Linked DNA regions of Homo sapiens. Each later gene encodes a partner of the first gene's protein in a complex. Each region holds a gene or a part of one and is shown in the gene's direction. Other genes may lie near its edges.

Region 1 (6,930 bases):
GTAGAGGCTGCAGTGAGTTATGATGGAGCCACTGTACTCCAGCCTGGACAAAAGAGTGAGACCCCATCTCTTAAAAGAAAAATCCCTGAGAGGAAGGGGGTAATGTGGTTCACAGAGGTAAAGTCACCTGTCCAAAGCCACACAAGATTATAAGAATAGCTATGTTTTTGTTTGTTTTATTAATTAATTAATTTATTTATTTTTGAGACAGAGTTTCGCTCTTGTTGCCCAGACTAGAGTGCAATGGCACGATCTTGGGTCACTGCAACCTCCACCTCCTGGGTTCAAGTGATTCTTCTGCCTCAGCCTCCCGAGTAGCTGTGTTTACAGGCATGTGTCACCACGCCCGGCTAATTTTGTATTTTTAGTAGAGACAGGGTTTCTTCATGTTGGTCAGGCTAGTCTTGAACTCTTGACCTCAGGTGATCCGCCTGCCTTGGCCTCCCAAAGTGTTGGGATTACAGGCATGATCCAGTGCACCTGCACTATTTATTTATTTTTTGAGATGGAGTCTTGCTCTGTCGCCCAGGCTAGAGTGCAATGGCGCAATCTCGGCTCACTGCAACCTCCACCTCCTGGGTTCAAGCAATTATCCTGCCTCAGCCTTCCGAGTAGCTGGGATTACAGACATCCACCATCACACCCAACTAATTTTTGTATTTTTAGTAGAGACGGGATTTCGCCATGTTGGCCAGTCTGGTCTTGAACTCCTCACCTCAAGTGATCTGCCCACCTCAGCCTCCCAAAGTGCTGGGATTACAGGTGTGAGACACCGCACCTGGCCGATATCCTGAGTCTTGATTTGGGTGTTTAATTACATGGTGTATCCAATTTTCAGGATTCCTTATATTCTTCCCTTAAGATCTGAACATTTTAATCAAATTTTTTGAGACTAATTGTTAATTAAATGTAATTTTTAATTACATTTATTTTTTAATCACGGCTAATTTTTATTTTTTATTTTTTTTTGTAGAGATGGGGGTCTCACTTTTTTGTCCAGGCTGGTCTCAAACTCCTGGGCTCGAGTGATCCTCCCGCCTCAGCCTCCCAAAGTGCTGGGATTACAGGCATGAGCCACAGAGCTTAGGTGCCCTTTCTTCCCCCTCTGTTTCCCAGGCTGTAGTGCAGTGGTGCGATCTTGGCGCACTGCAACCTCCGCCTCCTGGGTTCAGGTGATCCTCCCACCTTGGCCTGCGCAGTAGCTGGGACCACAGGCACGCACCACCCAGCTGGCTAGTTAAAAGAAATTTTTTTTTTGTAGAGACAGAGTCTTGCTATGTTGCCCAGGTTGATCTCAAACTCCTGGCTTCAATTGATCAACCTGCCTTGGCCTCCTAAAGTGATGGGATTACAGGCATGAACCACCATGCCTGGCCTACATTTTAATTTAATTTAAAAATAAACACAAAAGAGCTGGGCGCGATGGCTGATGCCTATAATCCCAGCACTTTGGGAGACCTAGGCAGGCTGATCACCTGAGGTCAGGAGTTCGAGACCAGCCTGGCCAACATGGTGAAAACCTGTCTCTACTAAAAACACAAAAAGTAGCCGGGTGTGGTGGTGTTCACCTGTAGTCCCAGCTACTCGGGAGGCTGAGGCAGGATAATCACTTGAACCTGGGAGGTGGAGGTTGCAGTTAACTGAGATGGCACAATGGCACTCCAGCCTGGGGGACAGAGCAAGACTCTGTCTCAAAAAAACAAAAAACAAGCCAGGTGCCGTGGCTCATGCCTGTAATCCCAGCACTTTGGGAGGCCGTGGCAGGCAGATGACCTGAGGTCAGGAGTTCGAGACCAGCCTGGCCAACATGGTGAAACCCTGTCTCTACTAAAAACAAAAAAATTAGCTGGGTGTGGTGGTGCATGCCTGTATACCCAGCTACCAGAGGCTGAGACAGGAGAATTGCTTGTACCCGGCAGGAGGAGGTTGTATTGAGCTGAGATCATGTCCCTGCACTCCAGCCTGGGCACAGCAAGACTCTGTCTCAAAAAAAAAAAAAAAAATCAAACCTGACAGCTATCATTTTTTAGTGTTATATGCCACATCTATCTGAAGTCCCTTGACCAATAATGAATTCTCATGATTAGTTTATGAAAGATGTGATGTTAATAATAAAAATAAGCTAATGTTTTAGGAGCACTTATCATTCATTTGTTCACTCCCTGAAAACAATGTTTTTTGTTTTTTGTTTTGAGATGGAGTCTTGCTCTGTCACCCAGGCTGGAGTGCAGTGGCGCGGTCTTGGCTCACTGCAAGCTCCGCCTCCCGGGTTCATGCCGTTCTCCTGCCTCAGCCTCCTGATTAGCTGGGACAACAGGCGCCCACCATCACATCTGGCTAATTTTTTTGTATTTTTAGTAGAGATGGGGTTTCACTGTGTTAGCCAGGATGGTCTCCATCTCCTGACCTCGTGATCCGCCTGCCTCAGCCTCCCAAAGTGCTGGGATTACAGGCGTGAGCCACCACGCTCGGCCAGAAAACAATGTGTTTCACACCTATCACCTGCCCAGCAGTCTTCTAGGCAACAGACATGCAACAGTAAACAAGCCAGACACAAAAATGACACTCTTCCTAGTAGGAAGGCAGACAACTAGAAAAAAATAAGAGAATGTTGCCTTCCCCAAAGGGTAGGGGAAAAGTGAGGCAGAGAAAGATGGGGAGTGTTGGGGTCTGGTTGGCATATTTTACAGACTTGATAGCATTGACACCATTAAATGAGACCGCCAGGAGAAAAGGACCATGATGGCCGGCCTCGGTGGCTCAGGCTTATAATCCCAGCACTTTGGGAGGCCAAAGCAGAAGGATGGCTTGAGCCCAGGAGTTTGAGACCAGCCTAGACAACATAGTGAGACCCCTGTCTATAGAAAAAAAAAATTTTTTAAATTGGCCAGGTGTGGTGGCACACGCCTGTAGTCCCAGCAACTCAGGAGGCTGAGGTGGGAGGATCACTTGAGCCTGGAAGGTTGAGGCCGCAGGGAGCCATGATCGTGCCACTGAACTCCAGACTGGGCAAGAGAGTGAAAACCTGTCTCAAAAAAAGAAAAAAGGTGGGGCACGGTGGCTCACGCCTGTAATCCCAACACTTTTTGGAGGCCGAGGTGGGCAGATAGCTGGAGCTTAGGAGTTCGAGACCAGCCTGGCCAACTTGGTGAAACCCCGTCTCTATTAAAAATACAAAAATTAGCCGGGCGTGGTGGTGTGTGCCTGTAATCCCAGCTACTCGGGAGGCTGAGGCAGGAGAATCGCTTGAACCTGGAAGGCAGAGATTGCAGTGAGCCAAGATTGTGCCACTGCACTCCAGTCTGGGCAACAGAGCATGACTCTGTCTCGAAAGAAAAGAAAGAAAAAAGCAAAGCAAAGCAAAGCAAAGAAAAGAAGGAAGCAAGCAGGCACCATGAGTGACCACCTTGATTCAAAGAGGAAACTGAGGCACGGAGATGTCACTAGCCTAAGGTCTGACCAAGAGTCAGGCTGGAAATGCAACCCCAGAGCTCCTTCTAGGGGTGGCCCTGACTTTGGAGTTGGGGACCTAACAGAACCCTTTATTCTCTCCGTTGTTGGGGAGGAAGATGCAGAAGGTTAATGACCAGAGGATGAATGACTGAAGCCTGGGGTCTCTAAGGGAGGAAATGGCTTAACCCAGGGAAGGTCAGTAGCGGGGGCCTCCTCTTCCCATAGCCGAGGACCTGATAAATTTGGGGGTGTGTGGTTGGAGAGAGGGGACCTTCCAGCTGGGGACTTGGAAGGATTCGGGGGTGTTCCAGTAGCAGATGAGCCTCACCCGTGGCTGGAGGCGTTTAATGGGGTGAAGCCTGAAAGGGGTTAAGGGGCAGCGGCAAAGGTGGGGTTAATGGGGGCGGGCCTGGCCGGGGCGGGGCCTCGGCTGGCGGCTCTGGCCCGGGGGCCGGGAGGAGTAGCCGCTGTTCTGCCCCGCGGGGGCATCCGCTGGGTCCCCGCGCCGTTGTCAAGACCGGGGACCTGGACGCAGCGGAGAGAGGTGCCGCCGCCCGCCCCGTCCAGTCGCCGCGCGCAGGTAAGTGCCGGGTCCTCCCCGGCTGCCCGCGATGCTGCGGGGTCTCACTAGGTTGCCCTGCTCGTGGCGAGACCGCTCCTCCCCGCCCCCTCGGGGGCTGCCTCAGTCTCCCGCGCCGTCTCGGTGCCCGCCCCCTCTGTTGCTCTCCCTGGCTTTGCGTCTGTCTCCAACTCCCGCCTGATGTCTCTGTGTCTGTGGTCCCTCTGCCTCTGGACGTGTCTTTCCTTCTGTGTCTCTGGATGTCTCTGTCTTTTTCTTGATCTCTGCCTCTCTGTCTCCGTCTGTCTGTCTCTGTCTCTCTGTTTCTGGGTCCCACCTCCCTCTGCCCCTGCCTCTGCCTCACCCCCGTCTGTTGTGGGACCTCTGCGGATGTCTCTGACTCTATCTCCATCTCTCCCTGTCTCTGTGTATCTCTTTGCTCTCTCCCTTCCTGTCTCTTCATCTCTATTGCCCTGTCTCTTTCTCTCCGTCTCTTATAACACTGTTTTGGCACCTTCAGCTCTGTCTTCTCTCCTTCCAAATCCTCCGCATCCCGGAACTTTCCTCTGGGCTGGGAACCTGCTTGGGAGTGGGGTAGGGGGCAGGAGGCTTGTGACCTGGGGCAGGCGGACTCTAAGTGACACCATGATCCCAGCGCCCCCTTCACGGAGCCACCCCACTGCCCCTCAGGTCGCACCCAGCCCGCCCGCCAATTTCAGGAATTCCTGCCTGGGGGGTGGACTTCCTCCCCTACTTCCTCTCTTCCAGGATTTGGCTGGGTCACCATTAACTCTTTCCTGCTTCCGCCTCACTCTCCCCCCTGGAACTGGACAACCCCTCCTCCCAAACTAGGCTGAGGAATAGCTCTAGGATATCTGTGAGGCATCGGTTGTGGGATGTGTGTGTGTGCGTACTCAGGCTGGATATGCATTGGGGAATTTGTTTGGCGCAGAAGTGGAGAGGATGGGGCCACACCCCCCAGTTCCCCCTCCAGAGCCCACCATCAGCCCCCCTCCTCCTGAGCCCACCAAGGGGGTATCCGCCCCCACCTCTGTCTTTGTAGATGAACTTGACTTCAGGTTTGGGGTGAGGATGAGGAGGTTTTCTTTTCTGGGGGAATCCCAGCTGAAGAGGATGAAAGACCCATAGGGGCTCCTGGAACCCTGGGAATCCTATGATCAAGTACCTTGAATGTGAACATCTTTGAATGGAAGGGCCCAGATGGAAGAAGCATTGGAGGGGAGGCCTGGGAATTCCAGATCTTTCCAATCAAAGGTCCTGGGGATACTGGAGTCCTTCAATCCAAAAAGAGGAGTGTTGAAATCTTGGCACGTTTCAGTGATGGCAGCTGAGAGCTGGAAAGGGTTTGCGGAGCCACCTAGGCCAACTCCCCCTGCCCCCATTTTATAGATGGAGAAACTGAGGTCCAAAAGCAGAAGTCCCCACAGTGAGTCAGTGCCAGGCTGGAGGGTTGGGACCCCAGTTTTCAACTGAAGCCCAAATCCACAGAGCTGGCTTCTTCTGCTACCACTAAGTCGGATTAATTTGGGGAAAGAGGTCTTCTCAATGAGGAGGGAGAGATGCCAGGGTGAGTAGAAATGGCTGGAATCCAGAAGGGAGGGTTTTAGAAGCAGAGGAGAGAAAATATTTCCAAAACCATGGTGGTGGGGAGGGAGAGGGGCAATAGTTGGTTTGGGTGGAAGGGGTGGAGTTTCGGGAAGAGAGGGAGGGAGGTGGAGGGGAACCGGGATTAACTCCAGCTTCAGTCTCCTGACCCTCCGCCTGGAGCCCACCGTTCCCTCGGGGACAGGGCCTATAATTTGGTTTGTGTCTAGACAAATAATAACTCAGCTGGTGTGAGCGGGGAGGGCTGAGGCTAGGCCCACTAGCGAAAGGGTAGAGAGGCGGCCTGGATATAGCATGTCACCCCCAGGTGGTGAGAATTTAGGGGCCAGGTGGAGGTGGTGACTAACACGCCCCTCTCTTCCCTCCATGAAGCCATAATTTCTTAGAATTCTGCACAATCTTAGAAATCAGGCTGCTGGAATGTTCAAAAGCAGGCGAGAGAAGGGGGGAAAGAAAAGGAAGTGGGGCTCACCGTATTTAGTGTATGTTCCCATTTCTGTAAAAGAGAAAAGGGAAATACATATTCCTGTTTGCTGGGGAAAGATAAAAATCACTGAGCGTTTAATAATAGATTATGAAAGTCATAGAATGCTTAAAAAAATCATAGCGTGTTCTAACAATAGAACTTTCGAATCTTGGAATGTGACACTCCTAGAATATTGGAAACTTAGGGTAGGTACTTACAAAGCCACGATGTAATAAATAGAATGAAAGAAGAGTAACGCTCTAGAATGTTATAATAGAACATTCAACTGCGAAGTGAACTAAGGATAGAACCTGAAGACTGCAGAACCATAGAGACCTAGAACGTCAGAGAGGCCATCTAAGGACTGGTATCCCTAGTAGGCAGTGTGGGCTTTGGGGGCACAGAGACCCTCTCGGTTGAAACAGGGATACTGAGGTGCAGTGGGGCCGTTAGGGTAGCCCGATTGCCCCCTGGTTTCCGCCGGCCGCCAGGGCACCAGGTGGGGAGCGAGGACCAGTGATCACATTTCGTCCCTAATGAGCAGACCGGAGCTGGCTGGTCCCTTGGGGCTGCAGGGAGAAGGCGGGGAGGGGGGGGTGGTGGGAGCAGGAGCCCACAGAGGAGGAAAAGGGGGAGGTGAGATAGCCTGGTGGCATCGGGGACAAGGCTGGTGAGTGAGCCCAGGGGTGCTGGGGGATGCGGGGGGCTGTAGCACTTCTCCCTCTTGTCCTCAAAATCCTCCAAGTTTTTCAGCTTTGCTGGATTTTGGGGTGGCTGGCAGGATGCGGCAGCCGAGGCTGCTAAAGTTGGGGGGGCCAGGTCTTCC
Region 2 (7,025 bases), on another chromosome or scaffold:
TTTTAAACAAAGGTATGAGGGTGCTGGTTGATGCTCGAGAGAAGCTTCATATTCCCTGGGGAGACAACTCAAACCAACAACATGGAGATAAGATGATGTCGTTTGATACCCGGGCCCCCATGGCAGCCCAAGGAATGGTGGAAACAAGGGTTTTCTTACAATATCTTCCTGCTATAAGAGCATTATGGGCAGACAGCGGCATACAGAATGCCTATGACCGGCGTCGAGAATTTCAACTGGTAAGAGATTTGCTCTTTTAAAACGTGTGGTTTTATTTTAATGATGTTTAGTAATACAGGTTGCACATCCCTAATGCGAAAATTCGAAATGTTCCCAAATCTAAAAGTATTTGAGATGGAGGAACAGACTGAAAGGCTAAGGCACAGACCTAATGTGTCCTAGTCTCTAATGACTACGTGTAAAAATAGTGTATAAAATTACCTTTAGGCTACATATCTTAAGGTATATATGAAACATAAATGAATTTCTAGTTTAGACTTGAGTCCCATTCCCAGCATATCTCATATGTATGCAGATATTTCAAAAATCTGAAAAAATTCAAAATCCAAAACACTTCTGGTCCCAGGCATTCGGATAAGGGACACTCAACCTGTATCTGATTTTAGCACACTTTTTTCACTGACTTCCATAATTTAATGTATCTATCCAAAATTATAGCCTCAGAAATTTGTTTTTTTGTTTTTGGGGGGTTTGTTTTGAGACGGAGTCTCTGTTGCCCAGGCTGGAGTGCAGTGGTGTGATCTTGGCCCACTGCAACCTCTGCCCCCAGGGTTCAAGCAACTCTCCTGCCTCAGCCTCCTGTGTAGCTGGGTCTATAGGCGCGTGCCACCACACCTAGCTAATTTTTGTCTTTTTAGTAGAGGCAGTTTCGCCATGTTGGCCAGGCTGATCTTGAACTCCTGACCTCAGGTAATGTGCCCACTTTGACCTCCCAAATTGCTGGCATTGTGCCAGGCATTTTTCCCCTTTTTTCTTTAACGAGACTACCCATAAAATGCTTTGTAGCTGTTACACAGCATTGAAGACAGGTTTGGAATAAAAGTATCCAATCCAGGTTAAAGATACAGAATACAGTTGAAACAAATTTTTAATCAAGTGTTTTGTAATTTAACTGTGAATGCTGTGATTGGGTTTTATTTGCCAAAGATCAGAAAGATTCCAGCAGTGATAGAAATCTAGACTGTGTGCAATTTGGAGGTAGTTCAGATCTGAAGTGTTTTACTCTAATATGATTAAAATGAAGTGACAGTTAAAAGTAAAACTGCTGGCTGGGCACGGTGGCTCATGCCTGTAATCCCAGCACTTTGGGAGTCTGAGGCGGGTGGATCACCTGATGTCAGAAGTTTGAAACCAGCCTGGCCAACACGGTGAAACACCGTCTCTTCTAAAAATACAAAAATTAGCCAGGTGTGGTGGCAGGCACCTGTAATCCCAGCTACTCAGGAGGCTGAGGCAGGAGACTCGCTTGAACTCTGGAAGCGGAGGCTGCGGTAAGCCGAGTTCGTGCCACTGCACTCCAGCCTGGGCAACAAGAGCAGAACTCCATCTCCAAAAAAAAAATAAATAAGCTGCTTAGGAAGTTGTTTGATGATGTCACCAACATTAATCCACATTAATGGGTGTGGCTGCAAAGCGATGTACAACCAGCAGTCCTTGCTGTTATTATTTATACTTAGAAGCAGTCTTGCCTTTTAAAAGTTCCAGGAAAGTGTTCACGATAGCTTTTTATAAAACTGACACCTTAATTTTGACTATATCTGAATTATGGCTTTTATATCTGTCATTCAACTAGCATTTGATTATTTACCGTCTTGTATAGTTCTCTTCTATCATGTTTGTATCTTGTCTTTTCAAGTAATGTGTTTATTTCTGAAAGGCAGGGACTGTCTCACATTATTGTTAAAATTACGTAGCTGCCAGTATTGCATGTTGAAAATGATGAATTTAACTTGACAAATGACCTCCATCCAATTCCCAGATTTCTGGTTAGTTTTGTCCCTTGATCAATGTTTATTACTTTATTTTTGGTAGATTTGCTTGCATGAGTTCTTCCATATACCCCTTTCCATCGCCCATCACTCTACCTCCTGTTTTTTGTTTTTTTGCATTTTTTTGAGAGTTTTGTTCTTGTTGCCCAGGCTGGAGTGCAGTGGCGCGATCTTGGCTCACCTCCGCCTCCTGGGTTCAGGCGATTCTCCTGCCTCAGCCTCCCAAGTAGCTGAGATTACAGGCATGCGCCACCACACCTGGCTAATTTTGTATTTTTAGTAGAGACAGTGTTTCTCCATGTTGGTCAAGCTGGTCTCTAACTCCTGACCTCAGGTGATCTGCCTGCCTTGCCCTCCCAAAGTGCTGGGATTACAGGCATGAGCCACTGTGCCTGGCCATCTACCTCCTGTTTTTAAGTGCTGCTTATTCTCCTTTCTTCTTAGTTCATTTTCTCAACAAACCACACACTTTCAACTCAATTTTGTCAGGCTCTATTCATCCTTCCAGGTCAGAGAAGAAACATTCATCTGTAATAAGCATACAGTGCATATGGATTAAATGAATAAATAAAGAACTGCATACCTGAAAGTTCTCTGTGGGGAAGTTCCGTATTTGCCCTAAGTCCATTTAATTAAAGTTGTGTTTCATGGACAGTTTTTTAATTTGGAAGCTGACGTCTAACTGTCTCACATCAGGACTGTCATGTCCTCATTGTTGAGAAAGCATCCCTAAGTATATCTTTGTGATTAAGAACGAATAGGTAAAACCACTCAGGATGAGGACCTGCTTGTTGTTGACTTGAGCCAGTTGATCCTTAAGGAGCAAAGAAGTCCTCAAAGATGAGGAGAGATAAGTTCCAGAAATACTTTTTTCCATGATGAAAAGTAGAGACAAGAAAAGAGGAACAGAGCAAGACCTAATTTTAAACTTCTGGAGGACAGAGATTCTTTTTTCCTGAGTCTACGCTCAGCATTGTTTTTTGTTTTTTTGTTTTTGTTTTTTAAGAGAAGGTCTCACTGTTGCCCAGGCTGGAGTGCCCTGTTGTGATCATAGCTCACTGTAGACTCAACTCCTGGGCTCAAGTGATTCTCCAGCTTCAGTCTCTCAAGTAGCTAGGACTACAGGTGTGTGCCGTCACACCCAGCTAATTTAAAAAAAAATTTTTGTAGAGACGGAGTCTTGCTATGTTGCCAGTGCTGGTCTTGGACTCCTGACCTCAAGCAGTCCTCCTGCCTTGGCTTCCCAAAATGTTGGGATTATAGGCATGAACCACTGTGCGTGGCTTCAGCATTGTTAATAGCACCTGACACATAGAGATGCTCCATTATTATGTTGACTTAATGACTCTTAAACTCTTGGATGTGCTGTGGTGCTTGGCATAGTGTCAGGCACTGAGAAGGCACTTGGCTTACTTAAAATTTTCCTCAAAGTCATCATCAATTCCATCTACTCATCTACATGCAGCAGCTCCCCAAGTTCTGATTTTTCTACCTCTGTAACGTCTCTTGCATTCATTCCCTCCTTTCCTCTATTTTGTGTTCTGCTACCTCTTGCTTGGACTCCAAGGCAGTCTTGTTCAAACACAGCATTGGTTTGCTCAGAAAGCTTTGGTGGCTCACCATTGTCTTCAGAACAGAGCTCAGCTTTTTTGTGGGAGTAAAGACTCTAGCTAGCTTACCTGTGATTCCAGCAATATATTTCATTAGGCCACTGGACATACTCTGTAATCTCTTGATTCCCACATACCCTAATTTTTTGCTTCTATAGCTCTCATCATGCGTAGTCCCTCTGCCAGAATTATTCTTTACCCTATCTGTTACTAGGTCTTACCCTTCACTTAATGTAGTGATAATCACACTAAATGTGGCCCATGGACCCCATGGACTGGAATGCTTGTTAAAACAAACAAGCAGATGCTCAGACTTTATACCTGAGGATCTGATTCTGGATTCTGGGATGGGACCCAGTGATCTGTGTTTTCAGCAAATAGCCATAGGTGGTTTGGATGAATTTGCTCCATGCCCCCTCCCTTTCCCCAGGAACAGTGCCTTAGGGGCTGTGTCTCTTTATTTGAAGCATCTCCAGTCTTCTTGGCTAGAATGGAGATCTCCGTGTCCTTTGCTTTCCCTAGCATGCTTACTCCTGTCACTCCTCACAGTACCCATTATGTGTGTTAGAGTCACAGCTTTCATGTGTGGCTGTCAGTCATGTAGAAGTCCTTTGGTATGCCTAGTTTGTCTTTTTCTCTCCTACTAGCATAGTGCCTGACACTTTTATTTCCTCGTTTTTCAGACATTCTTAATTACAAAGATGTTCTAAAAAAATAAAATACCTGTAATCCCAGCTCTTTGGGAGGCTGAGGCAGGCAGATCACTTGAGGTCAGGAGTTGGAAACCAGCCTGGCTGACATGGTGAAACCCCATCTCTACCAAAAACCAAAACCAAAACCAAAAATTAGCCAGGCATGGTGACATGTACCTGTAGTCCTGGCTACTCAGGAGACTGAGGCACGAGAATCGCTTGAACTCAGGAGGTGGAGGTTGCAGTGAGTGGAGATCATGCCACTGCACTCCAGCTTGAACGTCAGAGTGAGACCCTGTCTCAAAAAAATAAAAATTAAAAAATATGTAATATAATTTAATTCTACATTAAGTTCCTTCTGGGAAATATGGATTATTTCTATAATAGTTTCCTAATTTTCTAGGAAGTGGACAGTTCTTGTGTAATTATAATTTTTATTTGGGGGGGTTGAAATGTGTTTTGTTATGTTTAGCAGCATATTTTTGAATTTTGGATAGGAAAGGTAAACATCAGAAGAAATAGAGGTTAGCAGATAAAATAACTAAAATTAAAATTAACCTTTTCGTTTCAACTAATGATTTGATTATTAAACTTATTAATGCACATTAAAAACTGACAGGTTTTAAGGCCCTACATGACTTAACATTTTGCCTAAGATGAACAACTGCCCTTTAATCAATTTTCGGGACAAGGGATAGGGTGTTGATAACACAGCTTAGGTTTTTAGCAGACTACTCATTTGTTAGTAATAACTTTGGGTGTAAACATGAATGTTTTTCTTTCTAAGTTCCCAAAGGTAAACATTTCCTTTTTTGGTTAGTTCCATCATGGGTCAGCTAAATAGCTTACTGTGGAAAAGAAAAATACAAGATTCACATTCTCGTTATAACTTAAGGTACCTTTCTAGTTATTATAAATTAGCATACTGAGGATAATAGATTGTAAGAAGTGGCCTGTTTTAGTACTGAATTAAATATTTGAAATACTCTACTCTGGCTGTACATTCAACATAGCCTGCCACTGCACTTTTGAGTTACCCTGTCTTTAGAAAACCTTCTTATGTGACAATAGCTAGATAATTTGGTAACTCAGATGAATAAAGAGATGGGAGTCAGGGGTTGGCTGGATGATACAATTGGAGATATGGATGAAAACTGACAAAATGGCTAGGAGTCATTTCCAACTATTTTTTTTTGTTTAATTTATATTCACTTATTGAGAAATAAGGCAACACTTGTTACGTAGGACAGGACAGTGTGTGTGACAGTGGGAGGAACATCCCACAGCTTCCTACTTTCTGTAAACAGTTTAACATTGTCAGCATTAATACAACTTCCTGTAATGGCCAGTCTGTCTTTGCAATTCCTGAAACCAAAGTGTTTTTGCTAATCATGGTACCTTCAGTTAGACTTAATTCTTTTCTTTTTGTGCTTGAGGTTACTCTTCTTGAAGCCGATAAGATAGTGTATTCATTAACACAGAGATTTACTCCCTCAATCTGTGTAACAAAGTAACCATTTAGCTCCATGATTGGCCTGTAAAAAGGGGAGGTCCAACTAAGTATTCTAGAAACTTCAGTTTCAGCTAATTTTTTTTATTTATTTATTTGCACTGCAGCATGTATTGGAAATATAATACAATCAAGAGTCATTTGAAGCTCCTGTAGTCCCAGCTTCTGGGGAGACAGGAGGATTGCTTGACCTCAAGAGTTCAAGTCCAATGTGGGCAACATAGTGAGGACAGCCCCCTCCCTCTTAAAAAAAAAAAAGAATCAGAGTCATTTATTAATTAATGCTAATTTGGATTTGCTTTAAATATTAAAGAATTGCTACTTTCAGTTGTAAAATACTATGTTTCTTTTGGATGATTGGTCCATTTTCTCTATAAGTATAGTCAAGCAAGGACTTTGAGTTGCTAAAAACCTATTGGTTATCTTTTGATTCTAGGATTAGTGTTAAATATTTCATCCCATCTAAAATAAAGATTATATATAACATTAGAGATAGTAGAGGTTTTTATCTTACTTTATTAATATTTTTTAGAGACAGAGTCTCACTCTGTTACACAGGCTGGAGTGCAGTGGTGTGATCATAGTTCACTGTAACCTTGGGACTCCTGGGCTCAAGTGATCCTCCTGCTTCAGCCTCCTAAAGTGCTGGGATTACAGTAGTGAGCCACCTCACCCAGCCAGAGATAGTAGAGATTTTAAAGTTGAGTTTAATTTCCTTTTGATGAAATTGATCAGATGTCAGAGTGGTTACATTTTATCCAAATCTTGTAAACCCAGAGCTTTATGTTTATTTACGTTAAAAATGAAGTTTTTTTCTTTTTAATTAATTTCTTTTTTAAAATTTCCGTCAGTTCCTTTAAGTTTACACTTATAGTTTTAATACAACTTTGTGAAGTGTGTGTGCATGCACACATAGGTGGTATCACTTGTATTCTATTATGTTGAAATTTTCATGTTCGCATTTTTTTGGGTGAAAACTTGACTGGCTGTAGGATGTCTGGGTTCTTGGTGCTAAAGCTTCCGGAATTGGAAAATACTGTGCTGCTTTCTATATTACCTTTTATTGCTAAACAAAGCTAGGGGCACAATAATTTATGATTCTCTGAAAATGTTTATTAAACAACTAAGAGATGGAACAAGTAAATAGTTTTGTTATGAAAAGTAGACTTTAGTTTCAGAACTCTTTACCTAGAGCGTGGACCTA

Evidence for each region.
Region 2: the proteins of GPR4 (region 1) and GNA13 are in contact, whole or in part, in a cryo-EM structure (PDB 9JHP), measured with the Homo sapiens proteins. Residues at the interface, in NP_005273.1 of Homo sapiens: Gln45, Asn50, Arg115, Ala118, Val119, Ala120, Pro122, Leu123, Ala126, Ile204, Val208, Ser211, Val212, Ser213, Thr214, Glu218, Lys221, Ile222, Leu225, Asn290, Glu291, Gly292, Ala293; in NP_006563.2 of Homo sapiens: Arg47, Pro341, Tyr343, Phe359, Lys363, Asp364, Ile366, Leu367, His368, Asn370, Leu371, Lys372, Gln373, Leu374, Met375, Leu376, Gln377.

The regions. Positions count from the first base shown.
Region 1 is NC_000019.10:45,599,198-45,606,127, reverse strand, and holds the start of GPR4 (G-prodeshotein coupled receptor 4), read left to right. Parts: upstream 1-3,915; 5' UTR 3,916-4,033; intron 4,034-6,930. UniProt on the Homo sapiens protein: Proton-sensing G-protein coupled receptor activated by extracellular pH, which is required to monitor pH changes and generate adaptive reactions. Activated by an optimal pH of 6.8-7.2.
Region 2 is NC_000017.11:65,046,716-65,053,740, reverse strand, and holds part of GNA13 (guanine nucleotide-binding protein subunit alpha-13), read left to right. Parts: intron 1-12; coding exon 13-239; intron 240-7,025. UniProt on the Homo sapiens protein: Guanine nucleotide-binding proteins (G proteins) are involved as modulators or transducers in various transmembrane signaling systems.